2 linked regions of the Homo sapiens genome follow. The protein of the gene in region 1 binds, or shares a complex with, the protein of each later gene. Each region holds a gene or a part of one and is shown in the gene's direction. Other genes may lie near its edges.

The links.
Region 2: the proteins of FGF23 (region 1) and KL are in contact, whole or in part, in a cryo-EM structure (PDB 7YSH), measured with the Homo sapiens proteins. Residues at the interface, in NP_065689.1 of Homo sapiens: Leu39, Met74 (codon at 5,819), Ala80 (codon at 5,837), Val88 (codon at 5,861), Arg91 (codon at 5,870), Leu166 (codon at 7,905), Ile167 (codon at 7,908), Phe169 (codon at 7,914), Asn170 (codon at 7,917), Ile173 (codon at 7,926), Arg175 (codon at 7,932), His177 (codon at 7,938), Asp184 (codon at 7,959), Ser185 (codon at 7,962), Glu186 (codon at 7,965), Arg187 (codon at 7,968), Asp188 (codon at 7,971), Pro189 (codon at 7,974), Leu190 (codon at 7,977), Asn191 (codon at 7,980), Val192 (codon at 7,983), Leu193 (codon at 7,986), Lys194 (codon at 7,989), Pro195 (codon at 7,992), Arg196 (codon at 7,995), Ala197 (codon at 7,998), Arg198 (codon at 8,001), Met199 (codon at 8,004), Thr200 (codon at 8,007), Pro201 (codon at 8,010); in NP_004786.2 of Homo sapiens: Phe377 (codon at 7,742), Lys385 (codon at 7,766), Leu389 (codon at 7,778), Glu390 (codon at 7,781), Pro392 (codon at 7,787), Trp417 (codon at 7,862), Phe418 (codon at 7,865), Ser420 (codon at 7,871), Lys429 (codon at 7,898), Tyr432 (codon at 7,907), Tyr433 (codon at 7,910), Lys436 (codon at 7,919), Phe437 (codon at 7,922), Arg468, Ser471, Ile472, Arg556, Arg693, Asn694, Met695, Thr696, Tyr697, Ile735, Val752, Phe755, Asp756, Asn782, Asn783, Leu785, Ile812.

What each region holds. Positions count from the first base shown.
Region 1 is NC_000012.12:4,368,630-4,378,507, reverse strand, and holds part of FGF23 (fibroblast growth factor 23 precursor), read left to right. Parts: intron 1-5,810; coding exon 5,811-5,914; intron 5,915-7,724; coding exon 7,725-8,165; 3' UTR 8,166-9,878. UniProt on the Homo sapiens protein: Regulator of phosphate homeostasis. Inhibits renal tubular phosphate transport by reducing SLC34A1 levels. Up-regulates EGR1 expression in the presence of KL. Acts directly on the parathyroid to decrease PTH secretion. Regulator of vitamin-D metabolism.
Region 2 is NC_000013.11:33,046,335-33,056,212, forward strand, and holds part of KL (klotho precursor), read left to right. Parts: intron 1-7,432; coding exon 7,433-7,943; intron 7,944-8,712; coding exon 8,713-8,981; coding exon of another isoform or gene 8,982-9,031; intron 9,032-9,878. UniProt on the Homo sapiens protein: May have weak glycosidase activity towards glucuronylated steroids. However, it lacks essential active site Glu residues at positions 239 and 872, suggesting it may be inactive as a glycosidase in vivo.

The sequences.
Region 1 (9,878 bases):
ATGAGGGTCCCTTTGTGTGCACCTATATAAGGGGTAATGTGGTGAAAGCAGGGATAGATATTGAAAAAGACTGGATCTTCTATTTTAAGAAAACGTGAGAAAACACCTCAAAGCATACAGAAAAATGCAAACTGATCCAATATAGCTCAAATTAAAGGAAAGAAAAATTAGTTAGACAATCTCTAACTAAAGAAAACATAGGAATTATGATTTGCCCTTTATTGTTGTAATAAATAAATTAATTATTTTTGCTGTGACCTTGCTGTGTGTGAGGCATTTATTCTTCTAGGCTCCAAAGGTCCTTAAACCTGGTTGCAAGATATACAACATGCAAAATTAAGTTGCAAGATATATAACATGCGAAATTGACAGTTTAACCTCTTCAAGTACTAAATGCATATTGACAGGAGATAAAAGGAGAGAGGAAAGTTCTCTCCGAATACCAAACAGGTTCCAGAACTCCAGAGAATATAGTAAGACTCAGGAGTCAACATCTTGGAAACCAAGTTTGAGTCTCATGGCAAAAATTTCAATTAAATCTGGATACACTTGATGCACCCGAAGTGTTGTTCATTTTATTCAATGGATATTTAATAGGATCTACCATGTGCCTGGCATTCTACCAAGCGCTGTGGCTGAAAACTAAGACACAACCCTTCAAGGACCTCATGGTCTGTCGTCCTACCTTGTCAGCCAGCTCACTACCAGACTTTCAGGAAATGCAATTTTGCATGTCTCATGGAGGGGACACCCTTACTCTAATTCAAGACTATATGTGGGCCAGGTGTGGTGGCTCACGCCTGTAATCCCAGCACTCTGGGAGGCCGAGGCAGGCAGATCACGAGGTCAGGAGATTGAGACCATCCTGGCTAACACAGTGAAACCCCATCTCTACTAAAAATACAAAAAATTAGCCAGGCGTGGTGGCAGGCGCCTGTAGTCCCAGCTACTTGGGAGGCTGAGGCAGGAGAATGGCGTGAACCCGGGAGGCAGAGCTTGCAGTGAGCCGAGATTGCGCCACTGCACTCCAGCCTGGGTGACAGAGCGAGACTCCATCTCAAAAAAAAAAAAAAAAAAAAAAAAAAGACTATATGTGATTTAAAATGCAGAATAGTAGATTATGGTAAATTATTTTGATTCTCTTAGATGGAAAGGGCTGCATCCAACTAGAGAATGTTTATACAACTTGTCTCGAATCCTGGAATCCCGTTGCTGAAAGGAACTCCTTAAAGACGTTTCTTCCTGAACAAGAATTAGGGTAGAACAGAACAGGCCGGCTACGGTGGGGAGTGAGTGTGAAGAGTCAACCTCCTGGGCTGGCAGTCTGAACTTAGACCTTTTCCTTGAAAGCCCACCTCGTATCAGGCCCCAAGGGATCACTGAGTGCTAGTTAGAGTGAATTAAAATGACTGAGAAGCAGCAAAATAAATTGAACTGACTTCAGATTTTTAAAAATAGAAATGTGATTTTGTTTCCTTAGACATAGGCACTAGCTAAACATTGCATCTTTAAAGAGTTAAACATGAATGCGGGGAGGGGAACTTCGGGTCAGGGTAGTGGGAGGGAGATCTACTTTTCCTAGTCTATGTAGATAACTTTTTGTACTGTTCAATGAGTTGTCATGTGTATTATGGGAAAAAAAAAGTGCAGGAAAAAATTACACACTACAATTAAAAGTTACCCAAAAGAGGCCAGATGCGGTGGCTCACGCGTATAATCTCAGCACTTTGGGAGGCCGAGGTGGGAGGATCACTTGAAGTCAGGGGTTCGAGACCAGTCTGGCCAACATGGGGAAACCCTGTCTCTACTAAAAATACAAAAATTAGTGGGGTGTGGTGCCTGCCTGTAGTCACAGCTACTTGGGAGGCTGAGGCAGAAGAATCGCTTGTACCCCAGAGGTGGAGCTTGCAGTGAGCTGAGATCGCACCACTGTGCTCCAGCCTGGGTGACAGAGTGAGACTCCGTCTCAAAAAAAAAACGTTACCCAAAAGAAAGAGGAAAGATTAATGCATGTAGATAAGAAGCACAACTAATTAAATGTCTGGTGAAGGATTTGTAATGACCTCATCAGTGACTGTTAAGCAATGTTTTTACACTGATGGAAACCTAAAATGTGAGGGGTATTTTTTCCCCTCCTAATTATCCATTTCTATTGAATTCTGGTTTATCTTATTACTTTGCTGTAAGAAATTCTTAAGAGTTGAGTGCACAACCCATCTTTGGGTCACTGGACTTGACAAAATGAAGTTATCTCCTGCCTACCAGATTCTTCAAGCTCCCTTAGGACTCACAAGCGCTGCTGCCAGGTACCCCTCTGGTGTCCTTATCACCCGTTCCATGAACAAGGCCATCCTCTGACTCCCCTTTATCCTTATTATATGGAAACAGCAAGAGAGAGATGCTTATTGTCCCTGGTAATATCATTTCCTAGATCCTGCTATTTTCACTTCCTCCATCTTCCCCATAGGAACTATCTTTATTGAAGCTGAATTACCGCTGAGCTCCTTCAGCCTTTTTCATACGTTTTTCTTTTGAGGTGCTCAAAGCACTTCACTGCTATCATCTTATTTATCACTTACTGGCCACAAGAGTAGAATGGAGTAGATAATTTTCTACTTCTATAAGCAGAGGTTGAAGCAAAGTGGTAATAGTAAAAATTACTAGCACTTAGGAAGTGCTTTCTAAAGGATAAAAACATTATCTCATTATGTCTTCAAGATGACCAAATGAGGTAAATGTTTCTGCTGTCCTCATTTTATATGTGAAAAAACAAGAGTTAAAGAACTTAAATAACTGGCTGAAGGTCAGACAGGTAGTAAAAGACCTAGAGGACACCTTGACCCCAAATCCCAAGCTGTTCCAAGGTCACACGCACGGAGACACCTCCGTCATTGAAGGCAAAGTCCATTAAGCCTGCTCAGCTCCAACAGGCGGGGCTGGTTGCTCCGGCAGTCCATGGTTTGTTCCTTCCTTCTGCAAAATTCTCCCTTGAATCTGTGCAGACTGCGAAAAGATGCCTTTTGAAAGCACAAAGGAAAGAAACTCTGACTCTCTCACATTTTCTAAACTTTCACATTGGCTCACACTGTTTGATGGAAGAGTCTGTGTGCCCTCCGTAGCAGCTTCTCACAGTTCCTCAACCACCGCCGGATGTTTTCTAGGGGGACTGGCTCTGGAAACCAGGAGCGTGTGTGCCATACACACTGCCCACACTGACCCCAAGCATCAAGCCAGCACACCTGTCAAGGCATGGGCCCGGCATAAACAGCAGGTCAGAACACGCCACGTGATGTCCTCTGTTTGCTCGACACTTTCGAGTCACTTTTACCACCATTATCCCCTTCGATCATCACCCTATGAAGTAGGCAGGACAGCCATTGTTCTATTTCACAGCTGAGGAAACTGAGGCTAGTGCAAGGTCAGCAAGTGGCACAATTGGGACCAAAATCCAAGTCCCCTGGTTCTTGGCACCTGGCTCAGTGCCCCTTCCCCGAGCCCTTAGTGCTGCTGTGACTCCTTGTCCTCACTGCCTGCAGCATGTATTTTAGCATTTGATATTGTCTTCTCAGACTCTTAGTGATTTCTGCTGGAGGCTTGTTACCGGGTGGTGGGAAGATGTCTCTGACCTGAGTTTCAATCCTGTCTTAGTTTCCTTATCACTTAAATTAGGATATTGCTGCTACTACTACTACTAATAATAATAATAATCAGTACTAACAATATAAAATTTGTTTTGAGAATTTAAAATATGTAAAGTGCTTAGAGTGCAACCGCTCAAAGACCATTACTAAATGTAATTTTTTCCCAATTAGACTGAAAAGTCACCAGAACAGAAACCATTTCTTTTTTTTTTTTTTTGAGACGGAGTCTCGCTCTGTCGCCCAGGCTGGAGTGCAGTGGTGCAATCTCGGCTTACTGCTAGCTCCGCCTCCCAGGTTCATGCCATTCTCCTGCCTCAGCCTCCCGAGTAGCTGGGACTACAGGTGCCCACCAACACACCTGGCTAATTTTTTTTGTATTTTAGTAGAGAAGAGGTTTCACCGTGTTAGCCAGGATGGTCTTGATCTCCTGACCTCATGATCCACCCGCCTCAGCCTCCCAGAGTGCTGGGATTACAGGCATGAGCCACCGCACCCAGTCGAAACCATTTCTTACACGTTCCTTATATTTCTCCAAAGGTTTACCACAAAACTAGCCATACATTTGAGACACATAGGCAGACACCACTGTGGAGGAATTTAAGCATCCTTTGCGCCTGTCATACCCCAGTCCACTTTCTGGGAAGCTTTCCTCAAGGTTCCCCTCAGCCAAACTTTGAAACAAATTAACTTCTCTCTTTGGCCCTCTTCCTTTCTCACCTTTCTGGGGCTTGTCTCCACCCTCATTCCCTCTGTTCCGCGTCAGTCCAATTTCAGTCCCTATCATGATTTCTACTCAGCTAGTACCTAATTATTGCTGCTTATTTTCCTCAAAGGTCCTTGTATTGAGCCTGCATGGGATAGGAGAAGAGCTTTGGCCTTTAAATCACCCCCACAAGGCTCCATCACTTGCTAGGCACAAACATTGGGCATTTACAACCTCTCCAAGCTACAGTTGCAGAAGAGGAATTAGAATCCCTGCATGGGATTCTAGCTGCCTCCCTGGAGGCTATGAGGTCAGATGAGATGCACCTAGAAATTCTGTGATAGGCAACTGGAAGTAGCCCCAAAGACCTAAAGTAATGATTTTTAACAGAAAATGTCAGGTAATTAAATAACATGTGGGGAAGAAATCTCGCTGAATTATCACGCATGTTACACCAGTATATGATCTAATTGTGCCTTTGCCACAAAACAGTAATTTAAAGCCATTATCAATTACTTAAGAGGTAGGTCGTGTGAATGGGTTTCAGGCCCTTGTCGGAGACTAGTTTTTGAGAGGGGACACTGAAAGTCCATGAGGGGCTGCACCTGGAGAGGTCACCACCAAGTGAGAAAATGACAAAGAACCAACCCAAGAAGAGCCAAGAAGAAAATTCCATCCGTCACTTATATTGATTCAACATAAACAGTTATACCCTCTGCTCCTAAGCAGCTCACTCTAAGGAACGCACTGGATAGGTAAACTCAGCTAAAGCAAGTTAAATGGAATACATGCTGTAATAGAGGTGAAGGCATTGTCCTGAGGAGCTGAGAAGGAAGAACAACTGATTTTGAATGGAAAGATGAGGAAAGTCTTCATAGAGATGGTGACGCCTGAGCCTGGTCTTGAAGAGTGAGTGACTTCAATAAGTAGAGAAGGAAGAGGGAGATCAACTCTACTACCATTCTGTACACATACTGGGTGTTGACTGATGTATTAGACAATTACACAGACATCCAGGAGGAGAATCAGACTCTATGGCAAGCTGGATCCTTGAAAGACATCTCAGCATAGATTTAAAAATCACAAAGTAGAAGGCATGGAAGAATGTGACTATCACCACAAACATTCAAAGGTATTAGTAAGGCAAAAGGGAAAATAAAGACGGTCCAGGTAGAGAGAGAGAAACATGTGTTCAGCACAGGTAGAAGAATTCCAGGAGCTCAGAGTGCCCCATACAGGCAACAAGATGAAGCAGGAGGTGAATGACTGTATGTGTGTTGGGGGCAAGAGAGGATGTCAGAAGAAACGCTGAATATGCAGAAATGAGGCTGAATTTAAGAGTGCTGAAGTTATCACCACCCTTAAAATCAATCCAGGGAGGTTTCATGAAGGTAGGTTTTCAGGAGGTGCTTGAAGGTGGGAATTGGATGGCAATGAGTCTTTGCCCTGCCTGTTTTTCTCCATAGGTGCCCTGATGATCAGATCAGAGGATGCTGGCTTTGTGGTGATTACAGGTGTGATGAGCAGAAGATACCTCTGCATGGATTTCAGAGGCAACATTTTTGGATCAGTGAGTTTCTTTTTTGTGTTGGTCACCATTTGCAAACAATTAACCTAATTTCTTTGACACGACATAGACTTTTCTAGCTTAACAATTCCATTTGCAGTGTACCCTGGTGACCTGTTTCCACTGATACTTCATGCAGTCTAAGTATGAATTAAACGTGAATGCTCACGTTTAATAGCTGGGGTTTGAACTCAGGCAATCTGGCTCCAGATCCCAGGCTCTCAGCCCCTAGTCTGCACTGCCCATTGGAACCCACTTTTTTTTTTTATTATTATACTTTAAGTTTTAGGGTACATGTGCACATTGTGCAGGTTAGTTACATACGTATACATGTGCCATGCTGGTGTGCTGCACCCACTAACTCATCATCTAGCATTAGGTATATCTCCCAATGCTATCCCTCCCCCCTCCCCCCACCCCACAACAGTCCCCAGAGTGTGATGTTCCCCTTCCTGTGTCCATGTGATCTCATTGTTCAATTCCCACCTACGAGTGAGAATATGCGGTGTTTGGTTTTTTGTTCTTGCGATAGTTTACTGAGAATGATGGTTTCCAATTTCATCCATGTCCCTACAAAGGACATGAACTCATCATTTTTTATGGCTGCATAGTATTCCATGGTGTATATGTGCCACATTTTCTTAATCCAGTCTATCATTGTTGGACATTTGGGTTGTGGAACCCACTTTTGAATCTAGCACAGGCCCTGGTATGTAGTCGTAGGTCCTCAAGTCATGTCAATTCACGTTGTAAAGTACATTAGAAAGGGTGAAAAGCCATTGGTGTCTTCTTGATTCTGGGACTAGCTGTGACTTTGGGTAAATCTCCTCACTTCTCCAAACTTCAGCATTTTCACTTGGAAAAAGCGAAGTGGAATAGACCACGTGACCTGTGGAGCTCCCTCCAGTTAAAGATTTTTAATTAATAACCCCTGCCCCAATTGTGATAGCTATTCATTCGGATTGGTAAGCAAAGGATTTCCCAAACTAAAGGCTGCTGGCCTCTTTTGGAGGATTTTGAGATAGTAAAATAGTAGGACTGCTTATCTCAGGAGTCTCTGACCACCACACATGCCCACTAGAAACTCCACAAGAACAGAGACTTTCTGTTTTGCTTTCTGCTGCATCCCAGCCCCTACAATAGTGTCTGGCTAGAGTAGGTAAACAAACAAACAAAAAATCTGTTGAACCACTATTGAAATATAGATAACTAACTAAACATCCGTTAACCCCTCTAGGCATGTAGATAGTCCTGATCTGTAAACTGCTTACTTTGTGGAGCTTGAGGATTAAAAGAAATAACAGGCAAAGGCCTTCGTGGGGCACTCAGTAAAACCCAGTACTAGTGGTAGAGGATTCAAACCCAGCTCATCTGTCAGCAAAGTTCATGTCTCCAATCCCGTCAGTGCTCTCATTCATGTTTGACCCTATAAACTCCATCCCCTCTCCTTTCTCCAGTAAAGAGACAAACCCAAGCCAATTTTCAGCCAGCAGAGGCTTGGAAAAGATAGAGGGCAGGAAGGACAAGGTGGTGCCTACTCCAGGAAAACCACAGGCCAGGCCAGCCCGGGCCTCCAGGCAGTAAGCGGAGGCCCCAGTAGTCGTAGTCTCTGAAAGGGCGAACTATATAGTCAGGGCTTGAGCATTAATCAAAACCACTCTACCCCAGCAGGGAACAAAGGGGTGAAGGCTCAACGCCCTAAGAACTGCAGAGCTTCAGGCCGGCTGGCACAAGCATGTGGCCCCAGGAGGAGCTGGGGAGTGGGTGGGGCCCCCACTGCCAGCCTTCACGTGGTTCGCTCTTGTCCTTCCAGCACTATTTCGACCCGGAGAACTGCAGGTTCCAACACCAGACGCTGGAAAACGGGTACGACGTCTACCACTCTCCTCAGTATCACTTCCTGGTCAGTCTGGGCCGGGCGAAGAGAGCCTTCCTGCCAGGCATGAACCCACCCCCGTACTCCCAGTTCCTGTCCCGGAGGAACGAGATCCCCCTAATTCACTTCAACACCCCCATACCACGGCGGCACACCCGGAGCGCCGAGGACGACTCGGAGCGGGACCCCCTGAACGTGCTGAAGCCCCGGGCCCGGATGACCCCGGCCCCGGCCTCCTGTTCACAGGAGCTCCCGAGCGCCGAGGACAACAGCCCGATGGCCAGTGACCCATTAGGGGTGGTCAGGGGCGGTCGAGTGAACACGCACGCTGGGGGAACGGGCCCGGAAGGCTGCCGCCCCTTCGCCAAGTTCATCTAGGGTCGCTGGAAGGGCACCCTCTTTAACCCATCCCTCAGCAAACGCAGCTCTTCCCAAGGACCAGGTCCCTTGACGTTCCGAGGATGGGAAAGGTGACAGGGGCATGTATGGAATTTGCTGCTTCTCTGGGGTCCCTTCCACAGGAGGTCCTGTGAGAACCAACCTTTGAGGCCCAAGTCATGGGGTTTCACCGCCTTCCTCACTCCATATAGAACACCTTTCCCAATAGGAAACCCCAACAGGTAAACTAGAAATTTCCCCTTCATGAAGGTAGAGAGAAGGGGTCTCTCCCAACATATTTCTCTTCCTTGTGCCTCTCCTCTTTATCACTTTTAAGCATAAAAAAAAAAAAAAAAAAAAAAAAAAAAAAAAGCAGTGGGTTCCTGAGCTCAAGACTTTGAAGGTGTAGGGAAGAGGAAATCGGAGATCCCAGAAGCTTCTCCACTGCCCTATGCATTTATGTTAGATGCCCCGATCCCACTGGCATTTGAGTGTGCAAACCTTGACATTAACAGCTGAATGGGGCAAGTTGATGAAAACACTACTTTCAAGCCTTCGTTCTTCCTTGAGCATCTCTGGGGAAGAGCTGTCAAAAGACTGGTGGTAGGCTGGTGAAAACTTGACAGCTAGACTTGATGCTTGCTGAAATGAGGCAGGAATCATAATAGAAAACTCAGCCTCCCTACAGGGTGAGCACCTTCTGTCTCGCTGTCTCCCTCTGTGCAGCCACAGCCAGAGGGCCCAGAATGGCCCCACTCTGTTCCCAAGCAGTTCATGATACAGCCTCACCTTTTGGCCCCATCTCTGGTTTTTGAAAATTTGGTCTAAGGAATAAATAGCTTTTACACTGGCTCACGAAAATCTGCCCTGCTAGAATTTGCTTTTCAAAATGGAAATAAATTCCAACTCTCCTAAGAGGCATTTAATTAAGGCTCTACTTCCAGGTTGAGTAGGAATCCATTCTGAACAAACTACAAAAATGTGACTGGGAAGGGGGCTTTGAGAGACTGGGACTGCTCTGGGTTAGGTTTTCTGTGGACTGAAAAATCGTGTCCTTTTCTCTAAATGAAGTGGCATCAAGGACTCAGGGGGAAAGAAATCAGGGGACATGTTATAGAAGTTATGAAAAGACAACCACATGGTCAGGCTCTTGTCTGTGGTCTCTAGGGCTCTGCAGCAGCAGTGGCTCTTCGATTAGTTAAAACTCTCCTAGGCTGACACATCTGGGTCTCAATCCCCTTGGAAATTCTTGGTGCATTAAATGAAGCCTTACCCCATTACTGCGGTTCTTCCTGTAAGGGGGCTCCATTTTCCTCCCTCTCTTTAAATGACCACCTAAAGGACAGTATATTAACAAGCAAAGTCGATTCAACAACAGCTTCTTCCCAGTCACTTTTTTTTTTCTCACTGCCATCACATACTAACCTTATACTTTGATCTATTCTTTTTGGTTATGAGAGAAATGTTGGGCAACTGTTTTTACCTGATGGTTTTAAGCTGAACTTGAAGGACTGGTTCCTATTCTGAAACAGTAAAACTATGTATAATAGTATATAGCCATGCATGGCAAATATTTTAATATTTCTGTTTTCATTTCCTGTTGGAAATATTATCCTGCATAATAGCTATTGGAGGCTCCTCAGTGAAAGATCCCAAAAGGATTTTGGTGGAAAACTAGTTGTAATCTCACAAACTCAACACTACCATCAGGGG
Region 2 (9,878 bases), on another chromosome or scaffold:
TGTATTTTTTCCTTAGCCACTTTTGGTAATGTGTGTGCTTCCGGGAATTTGGCCAGGTCATCTCTGTTATCTAATTTGCTGGCATCCAAATGTTCATAATGTTCTCTTGTAATCCTTTTTATTATAGAAATGATATACAGAAAAGGTCAGTTACCACTTTCTTTTATGATTGCATTAATTTGCTTCTTTTCTCTTTTTTTCTCTAGTCAGTCTTGCTAAAGGTTGGTCTGTTTTGTTGATTTTTTTCAAAGAACCAACTTTTGATTTTGTTGATTCTATAATTTTTCTGCTCTGTATTTTGTGTATATCCATTCTAATTTTTATTAGTTCCTTTATTCTGTTAGCTGTGAGTTTAGTTGGCTCTTCTTTTTTATTTTCTTAAGGTGGAAGACTAAGTTATTGAGATATATCTTGTTTTTTTTTTTGATGTAGGTATTTAAAGCTATAAAATTTCCTCTGAGCATTGCTTTTGCTGCAATTTATAAGTATTGGTATGTTACATATTCAGTTAGTTTTTTATATACACATTTAAGCTTTTGCTAATCTACCTTGTGATTTCTTCATTGACTTATTGCTTGTTTGAGTGTGTCAACAATTTCCACGTATTTGTGAATATTCTAGTTTTCCTTTTGTTATTGATTTCTAGTTTCATTTCATTGTGGTAAGAAACAATACTTTTTATGATCTCAACAGTTTAAAATTTATTAAGACTTATTTTCTGGTCTAACATATGATCTATCCTGGAAAATGTATCATGTGCACTTGAGAAAAATGTATATTCTGATTTTTTTAGGTGGGTGGCATGTTCTATTAATATATATGTCTGTTAGCTCTAGGTGAATTATAGTGATGTTCAAAGCCTCCATTTTGTTATTAATATAACCATGCCAGATTTTTAATGCTGTCCATTTGCATAATATGTCTCTTTCCATTCTTTTTCTTTTACATGATCACTTTATATTTATAGTATATTTCTTGCACACAGAATGTAATTGAAACTTACTTTTCTAAAATCTACTTTCTTTTTTTTTTTTTTGAGATGGAGTCTTGCTCTGTTGCCCAGGCTGGAGTGCAGTGGCACAATCTTGGCTCACTGCAATCTCTGCTTCCCGGGTTCAAGCAATTCTCCTGTCTCAGCCTCCCGAGTAGCTGGGATTACAGGCACCTGTATTTTTAGTAGAGACGGGGTTTCACCATGTTGGTCAGGCTGGTCTTGAACTCCTGACCTCGTGATCCACCTGCCTTGGCCTCCCAAAGTGCTGGGATTACAGGCGTGAGCCACTGCACCCAGCCCCTAAAATCTGCTTTCATAGCATCTGTCTTGTACTTGGAACATTTAGTCCATGTGTATTTGAATATTTATTGATATGTTTGGGTTTATGTTTACAATCCTGCTATTTGTTTTCTTTTTGTTCCATGTGTTTTTTGTTTTTTATTTCTGCATCTTTTGGAAAAATCAGATTTTTTGGTAATTCATTTTTCTTATTTTATTGGCTTTTTAGAGAAACCTTTTAATATCTTTGTGAGTTTTAGGGATTACATTATTTATTCTTATTATTATTCCATTTAGAATTAATATTGTTAATCCCATTCAAAAATTTGTTTATTTCGCTTTTCAGTTCTAGAATTTTCATGTTTTCTTCAGTTGTTGTTTCTCTGTTGTTATTCTCCATTTGTTCATTATATCTATCTTTTCTTTGAAATCCTTAAAAATATTTATAATAGCTATTTTAAAGTCCTCTGCTAATCCCAATGTCTGGGACATCTTGGCTTCTGTTGATATTGAATACTTCTTTTTTTCCCCTTAATTAAGGGTTTCATTTTCCTGCTTTTTCACATATCTAGTAGATTTTTATTATGCTCTGTGTGCTATGAATGAGATATTATAGGAAGCCTGGTCAATATTGTCTCTTTTTAAAGGGTGTTGTATTTAGTTCTGCCAAGAAGTTAAATTACCAGATTTACTTGATGTGGCTTTAGTCTTTGTTAGAGCTGGTCTATTCCTGCTTTGTTCTTACTTCTCAGGTAATGACCTTCCTGAGTTTCAGCTGGATGCCTGAAGTGCTCAGCTGCATTTTTCTACTCTGGCTATTCTGAAATGCAATATTTTCCAGACCTACCCAACCTTTGGTATTCATCTCCCAGACCTGTGGCTGCTTCTCTTTGCTGAGCCTCACAAAATCTTGTCCTGTGCATGGACAGCCAAGGATCCTTGGGAAATCTCATGCAGACTTCTAGGTCCTTCCTTTGTGTAGATTTCTTCTCTCCAGTACGTTGACCTGCTTCAGAGTCCTCATCATTGCTTTCTTCCTTTTCAGCTCAGCAATACTGCTGTGTATTGTGTGGGCTTCATTTGCCTCAGCCATACCTAGAACACAACCCAAGGCAGAAAGCTGGAGTGGACCTGAGGCTCATCACCTGTTTCCTTCCACCCACCATTTAAAAGCAGCTTATTTGTGTGAAACTTTTTGTTGGGTTCTGTGGGGGATACGTATAGGCAAATGACAGGGAGCTTATAATTTAGCCAAAGAGAAAATGTCTATATGTTCTGTGGAATTCAGAGTATTTTCCTCGACTTCCAAAATTATTTTCCTCGACTTCCAAAATTTGGGGCTACTAGCTAGTTGGTAGGAAGGAATTCCAGATCCATTTTTCTTCTAGATTTTTTTCAGACTCCATGTTTCAAAATCTAGATGGAAGGTAAGAAGGAAGCAAGGAGGGCATCACATACGAGAGAGACTTATACCCCAAAGTGGATCATTAGCACATTATGAGATAATATGGTATTATTCTCAGAGGCCTGCCATATAAAATTCCTTCTAATTTATTTTTTAATGGTATGTGCCTGAAAGTTTTCTGTCTTTCATGATCTTGAAAGCAAAATAAGAACCAGAGTAGCTTATGAGAGAGTTTTCCTGCTTCAGCCCAGAAAAATGTTGCTTCTGTCCTAGACCCTTTGATCTGGTTCTTAGTGCCAGCCTTCATTCCTCTAGATCTGTTTATTGAATACTGGCTCTGTTGCAGAGACTTTGCTAGAATCTGAGAGATAAAAGACTCAATGCCTTCAAAACACCTACAATCCAGACACTTAAATAAATGCAATAATATATGGTTAAGGTCTTGGATAGAGGACCATCATAGAAACACATAGAACAGACATTTAGTCCATGCTAGGGAGAGGGAAGATGTCAAGGAATGCTTCCTGGAGGTGGCGACATCTAAGCTGAGTTTTAAAGTGGGTGTAAGAGTGAAGGAACTGGGAATAGGCAAAACATACCTTAGAGAGCTGCACCTCCAAAGCATGGAAGGCTAGATAATCTTAGAACTTCAAGTGGGGTTCAATGTGCCTGGGACTTGGATTTCAGGCAGAGACCATAGGGCAAGTTGGAGAACAGGTGGGCAGGGTGAGATGAAGCAGAGACTTTTAATAACCATCAAACAGGCCTGCCATCCAACTGCTATCAGCCATTTTCCCTTTTTGAATTTTATTTTTTTAATCTCTAGAGCAATACATGTTTATGGTAGGAAATGAAAAAAATATATAGATGGGTAAAATGAAGTGAATTATACCACCCACAATCCTGCTGTAAAACAGGTTTTAACAAGTTATAAATCCCTCCAGATCAAAGTGCTACTAAACTCTACTTGCTATTTTATAACCTTTTTCTGTTCAGAGTATTTTAGAAACGTTTTTACATGTTAATTGATATTCTTTTGCATTATCCTGAATAATGGTATTTCTTTAGTTATACTATCATGTATTAAAACATTCATACATGGTAAACATATTTGAATATTAGACATTTCAATTGTTTTCAATGTTTGGCTATTAAAAATAGTATTTAGATGAATGTTCTTGGCCATACAGTTAATAACTTCACTGAGTCCTTGTCAATAACTTTATTAAATCCCAATCTTAAGACAACAAGCCTATAAGATTAACATACCAGGAATAATTAGAAAGCATTGCAAGACTATATGTAACCATCTCCCTGTTAATCATCCTTATTTGTTGCAACATCCTAAATAGCGACCTTCCCACACTCTGCCTCATAATATTTAATCTGTCAAATGTACCATCCGCAAAGGGAGTGAACTGGCTCGTGAAGAGGTGGTGAAGCTGGTTCAACTCAGTTTAACAGACAATGAGGGCCTCCGTGTGCCAGGGAGGGAGTGAGGGAACTCCACAGGGAGCTCATTCTGGGGAGGGATGCCCCTCATTATCTGCAGTAAATGATATTAGAGAAGTATGTGTGAGACTCTTGGTGTCCAGAGGAGGGGCATGCAGCACAGTATGGGGGTCCATGGGGTTGCAGCGATTTCTTAGAGACGGTGCCATGCCTGGGATGACCACCAAGTTAGGATGCTGTAAAGAGTAATCAAATAAGTTTCAACAGGGTTTTGGCATGAGGTGAGCAGTTAATCCAAATGATATCTGAAATGCTTTCTAATGCTGCAAGTGTATTCCTCTGTAAAATAATCAACTACTTAAAAGACACTCTCACTTGCATTATGTCATTTAATCCTCACAGTGTCCCTACGGGACAATAGATGTCATTCCCACTTGTACAGAGCAGTAAGTGAGGCTCACACCGGTCATAGTTAGAGGAGTAGGGAATCTAAACCTAAGTCTCTTCTACTCCAAACCCCAAGTTTTATCAGTATGTCACATCGCTACTGTGGGCTGAATTCCTTAGCAGGGGTTGTTTCCTCCACCTGCAATATTCTTCCTTTTGGTTTGTTCATCCTCTAGAGAGAGAAGGGATACGCATTCATGGAGATCCTACTGTTGCAAACTCTGCATTAGGAGTTTTACATGAATTGTCTCATTTAGTCCTCACAACAGTCCTGTGAGGCACAGGAAAGTTAGATTTACCTGCCCAAATTAAGGAATGTGGCCAACTCAAGAGTGACGAAGGCCAGGTGCGGTGGCTCATGCCTGTAATCTCAGCACTTTGGGAGGCTGAGGTGGGAGGCTGAGGATCGCTTGAGCCCAGGAGTTTAAGACCAGCCAGGGCAACACAGCAAGATTTAATCTCTACTAGAAATAAAAAAGAAATTAGCCAGGTGCCTGTAGTCCCAGTTACTTGGGAGGTTGAAGTGGGACGATTGCTTGAGCCTGGGAGGTAGAGGCTGCAGTGAGCCATGATCCCATCACTTCACTCCAGTCAGGGTGACAGAGTGAGACCCAGTCTTAAAACAAAACAAAACAAAAAAGAGTGATGGAGCAGGAACTTTATCTGCCATCAGAGACCATATATGTCTTTCCTTATGGCCCAGGTCATTTATCATGTCCTTGCTAAACCTCCTCCTCTGAGCCTTGTTAAAGTCCTCAAGGTTAGAAGAGTGGTCTATAATTATAAAAAATTCCATTGTATGACTTCAGCTACCTGCAAAACTGACCGAGATTAATGCATTCTTTGTTTGCTTTCACTCTTTCATTCCCTGTTCAGCGCTTATTCTACAGAAAGGTGCCTGGTAGATTTAGGACATGACTGTTCATAGGCCTCAAATGCGGTCAAATTAGGAAAGTCCCCTGGTTTTTGGTCTCAAGAGGTTAATTGCTGAGTACTAGCCTGGACTGCTCAATGGATTTTATGTTTAACTGTTGTGTTTATTTGTTTGTTTGTTTTTGTTTTGTGAGACATATCTTTCTCTGTCACCTGGGCTGGAGGTCAGTGGTGTGAACATGGCTCACCGAAGCCTCCATCTCCTGGGCTCAAGTGATCCTCCTGCCTCAGCCTTCCTAGTAGCTGGGACTACAGGCACACAGCACCATGACTGGTTAAGTTTTGGATTTTTTGGTAGAAATGGGGTCTCACTCTTTGCGCAGGCTAGTTGTGAACTCCTGGTATCAAGGGATTCTCCCAATGTGCTGGGATTTCGGCCTCCCAAAGTGCTGGGACTGCAGGCATGAGCCATCATGCCCAGCCTCTGTTTAACTGTTAACATCATGAGGTTTCCTTTCAATGAGGAAGGGAGGCCTGGGGAGGTGTGATGGGGAAGATGGAGAAGGGTAGGAGACATCATAAAACTGACAGAAGTGTGGCACGATTAAGACCCTGGTTTCTTAGACCACATAAGCAAGTGCCACTATTCTTTTGATCAACATTTGATTCTCTATTTCCTTCTTAGCATATAGATAGCTGCTTCAGGTCGTGAAAAAATACATTTAGTGAAATGAAACATAGTAGATATGTTCACCAAGAAACTAAAAAGAAAAGTTAGCCACAAACTATCTTATTTCATTGAAATGTTTGGCTGAACCCATAAGAATGTTGATGAGGCCATTCTTGGATGCCTGTACTGAAATGAACCACGAGAGGAATATTTAGGATATGTTGAAGAGGCTGTTTGGCTTAATGAACAAAGGAGTTTCTGCAGGCCCAGGGAGTGGAATGAAAATTGGCATGATCATTTTGGAGAATATATGGAGTCAAACAGAGAATTTGAATGGAGTTTTCAAAGAGGATATGTTAGGGGAATAAAGGCTGATAAACAACACTTGTATTTGTAGGAAAATAGGGAGAGTAAATCAAGGAATTCAAAGAGAAAGAGAAACTCACTTCAAGTAGGGGAGAAAAAACCCCTATAATTTTCACTCTTCCTTGTAAATAAAAAGGAAACAAATGAAAATAAGATATTAGAAGTCAGTAAGAATTTATGGGAGTATAAAGTTGGTTTTATGGATGCAAAGCCCTTTTCACTGCTGTACGAAACTCCTGGCTGCATGCTAACAATGGACAACTGATTTCCTTGCAGCTGTATTTTGCTGTTTTTTGCTCTTGGCTTGGACCTAGCACCCTGGGTCTGTGGGAAACCAGAACTGTCCCAGAGTTCTGGAGGGTAGGCCAAGGTTAGATGCTGGAGTGGGTTCTTTAATTTATTGTACTGATTCTTCTTGGGAAGAAAGAAGATTGCTTGTTAGAATTTTAGCTACGAGAGATGACTATGAAACAGTAAATTAACTCCAACGACCTGAGTCATTTTGAAAACTCCCAGTCTCAGGATAAAAAATATAATCCTATTTAGAAATTCCTGGTGTGATCACAGATGTAGCATTGGTTCTTTTCATGAAACCCGTAAATTAAAAAGTACATAATCCAAAGTCAATTAAATAGTAAGCTATTATAACAAATTCTTTTATTTCATTAGCTTTTCAAAATGTGGATAACTACACACTCAACCCAAGGAATCTACATTTTTCCACTGACTGCTAAAGACCAATGGAAATAACTCTAGTCCCCGTAGCACCTCACTGTGGGGTGACCTACCTTTGAAATAATGTATTGGTTCTAGCTGATTTTTATATTGTTAGTCATTAAGTTAGGCTTGATGAGAAACAGATATAATCTGATTTGGGGATTCAAGTATTATATTGCATTTCTCCTCACAACTAGAGATAAATTTGCCATGGTTTTTCTCTTCATAGGCTCATGCCAAAGTCTGGCATCTCTACAATACTTCTTTCCGTCCCACTCAGGGAGGTCAGGTGTCCATTGCCCTAAGCTCTCACTGGATCAATCCTCGAAGAATGACCGACCACAGCATCAAAGAATGTCAAAAATCTCTGGACTTTGTACTAGGTTGGTTTGCCAAACCCGTATTTATTGATGGTGACTATCCCGAGAGCATGAAGAATAACCTTTCATCTATTCTGCCTGATTTTACTGAATCTGAGAAAAAGTTCATCAAAGGAACTGCTGACTTTTTTGCTCTTTGCTTTGGACCCACCTTGAGTTTTCAACTTTTGGACCCTCACATGAAGTTCCGCCAATTGGAATCTCCCAACCTGAGGCAACTGCTTTCCTGGATTGACCTTGAATTTAACCATCCTCAAATATTTATTGTGGAAAATGGCTGGTTTGTCTCAGGGACCACCAAGAGAGATGATGCCAAATATATGTATTACCTCAAAAAGTTCATCATGGAAACCTTAAAAGGTATGATTGTGGGTAAAGTTCTCATTTCCTGCCAAAATCTTCTGGAAAAAAATCTCTAAGATTATCTAACATAAATGATGTGAATTTATATTTTTAAATCCTAATGGAGACATTCATTTTGGCAATAGTAGAATGCATTCATTTAACACCTTTCTCATTTGGAGTCTTGAGGAACTTGAATTAATTTTTAAAAACCCATTTGTAAATGAGAAACTGGGTTATAATATTTGTAATTACTTAACTTTCAGTTATTAATCTAGATTTTTAGATTAAATTGAACATAAAACAAATCCCAGGATATCTAGCTCTCTGCACATGTTTTTCAGTTCTTGTTATTTTGGTTGAATAAAACACTTTAAAGAAAAAGGAATGTCCATGTTTTCTAGAGAAAATAGTATAAATAGATCATGCTTTTAAAGCCTTCATTTATTTATTTATTGCATCAGACACAAAGCTGGGTGTCTAGGATGGAAAGTGGTACAAGACATCTTTCCAGCCCTGTAGAATATCTATTATAAATAAGGAACTATTTTTTCAAGGTGCTCAGAAATCCAAAAAACATATTAGATAGGCCAATTTTGAGGGCATTTATTTGTAGAGTTATATAGGTTTGATTAGAGTCTTTCGTCAAGAAGAAAAATCATTGGCTTACCAAACGAGAAGCATTACACTTTATTTATTTAAGTAGGAAACGCTCAGCTGCTCTTGAACCATGATGCAAGTGCCCAGCGAAGGGTCATGTTGCTCTTGTCCCCTCTTCCCTTTGCAGCCATCAAGCTGGATGGGGTGGATGTCATCGGGTATACCGCATGGTCCCTCATGGATGGTTTCGAGTGGCACAGAGGTTACAGCATCAGGCGTGGACTCTTCTATGTTGACTTTCTAAGCCAGGACAAGATGTTGTTGCCAAAGTCTTCAGCCTTGTTCTACCAAAAGCTGATAGAGAAAAATGGCTTCCCTCCTTTACCTGAAAATCAGCCCCTAGAAGGGACATTTCCCTGTGACTTTGCTTGGGGAGTTGTTGACAACTACATTCAAGTAAGTCAGCTGACAAAACCAATCAGCAGTCTCACCAAGCCCTATCACTAGTAAGTAGTGCTTCCTTCCTAGGCTGATTGTCATGGCACATTGTCCGTTCTTTGAGCCAAAAACAATTCCTTATGAGTACACTAAGGGCACAATTTGGAATGCTGCACCCTTCTCTCCAAAACTCTTCCAATCTTCATCTTGTTTAAGTTAGATCCAAAGATAAATAAATTTAAAGCATATCAATATTTAAGATCCGATTAAGACAGTAAAAAGATAAAACACTCTCTTTTCATACTGTGGTTTTTGATCCTTTTTAAGGCAGTTGAGTTTTTTCATGAACAGGATCTAACACAGAACTCCAAAGCCTCTGAGTTTCAGTGGTGCTGCTGAGACTGAGGCAGGAACATTAGGCAGAGTCCTCCAGAGGCACAACTGTGGGCTCCACAAATGTGCAGAAATACCCTAAGAAAGTAAACCCTAGATCCAATGATTCACTGGTCAGAATGTCTTTTTTAGCAATAGTCATTGAAATGATACGAAATTTCTTCAGAATGATCAACCAATATTTATTGAGCATCTTCTCAGTAGTAAGCCCTTAACATTCTTTCAGACTTCCTAAATTTTGAAGGGGCTTGTTTTCCAGCATTTGACTGGATACTCTAGTAAGCACTTATTGGATGTCTAGTGTGTCCGAAGCCTTGTGTTAGTTGCTCGGGTCGCTTGGTTAAGGGGAGTGCAGGTAGAGGGTATACTGAGATGAGTAAGGGTAACCTTTGCTTTCAAAGGAGCAAAGGAGTCTACTGAGCGAAAACAATGTATGCACAAATGATGCAATGGAGTGAAGCGGGCATGGTGGTAAGTAACAAGGGCGGGGCTGGGGGATTGCTGCTGATAGAGTCCCAAGTG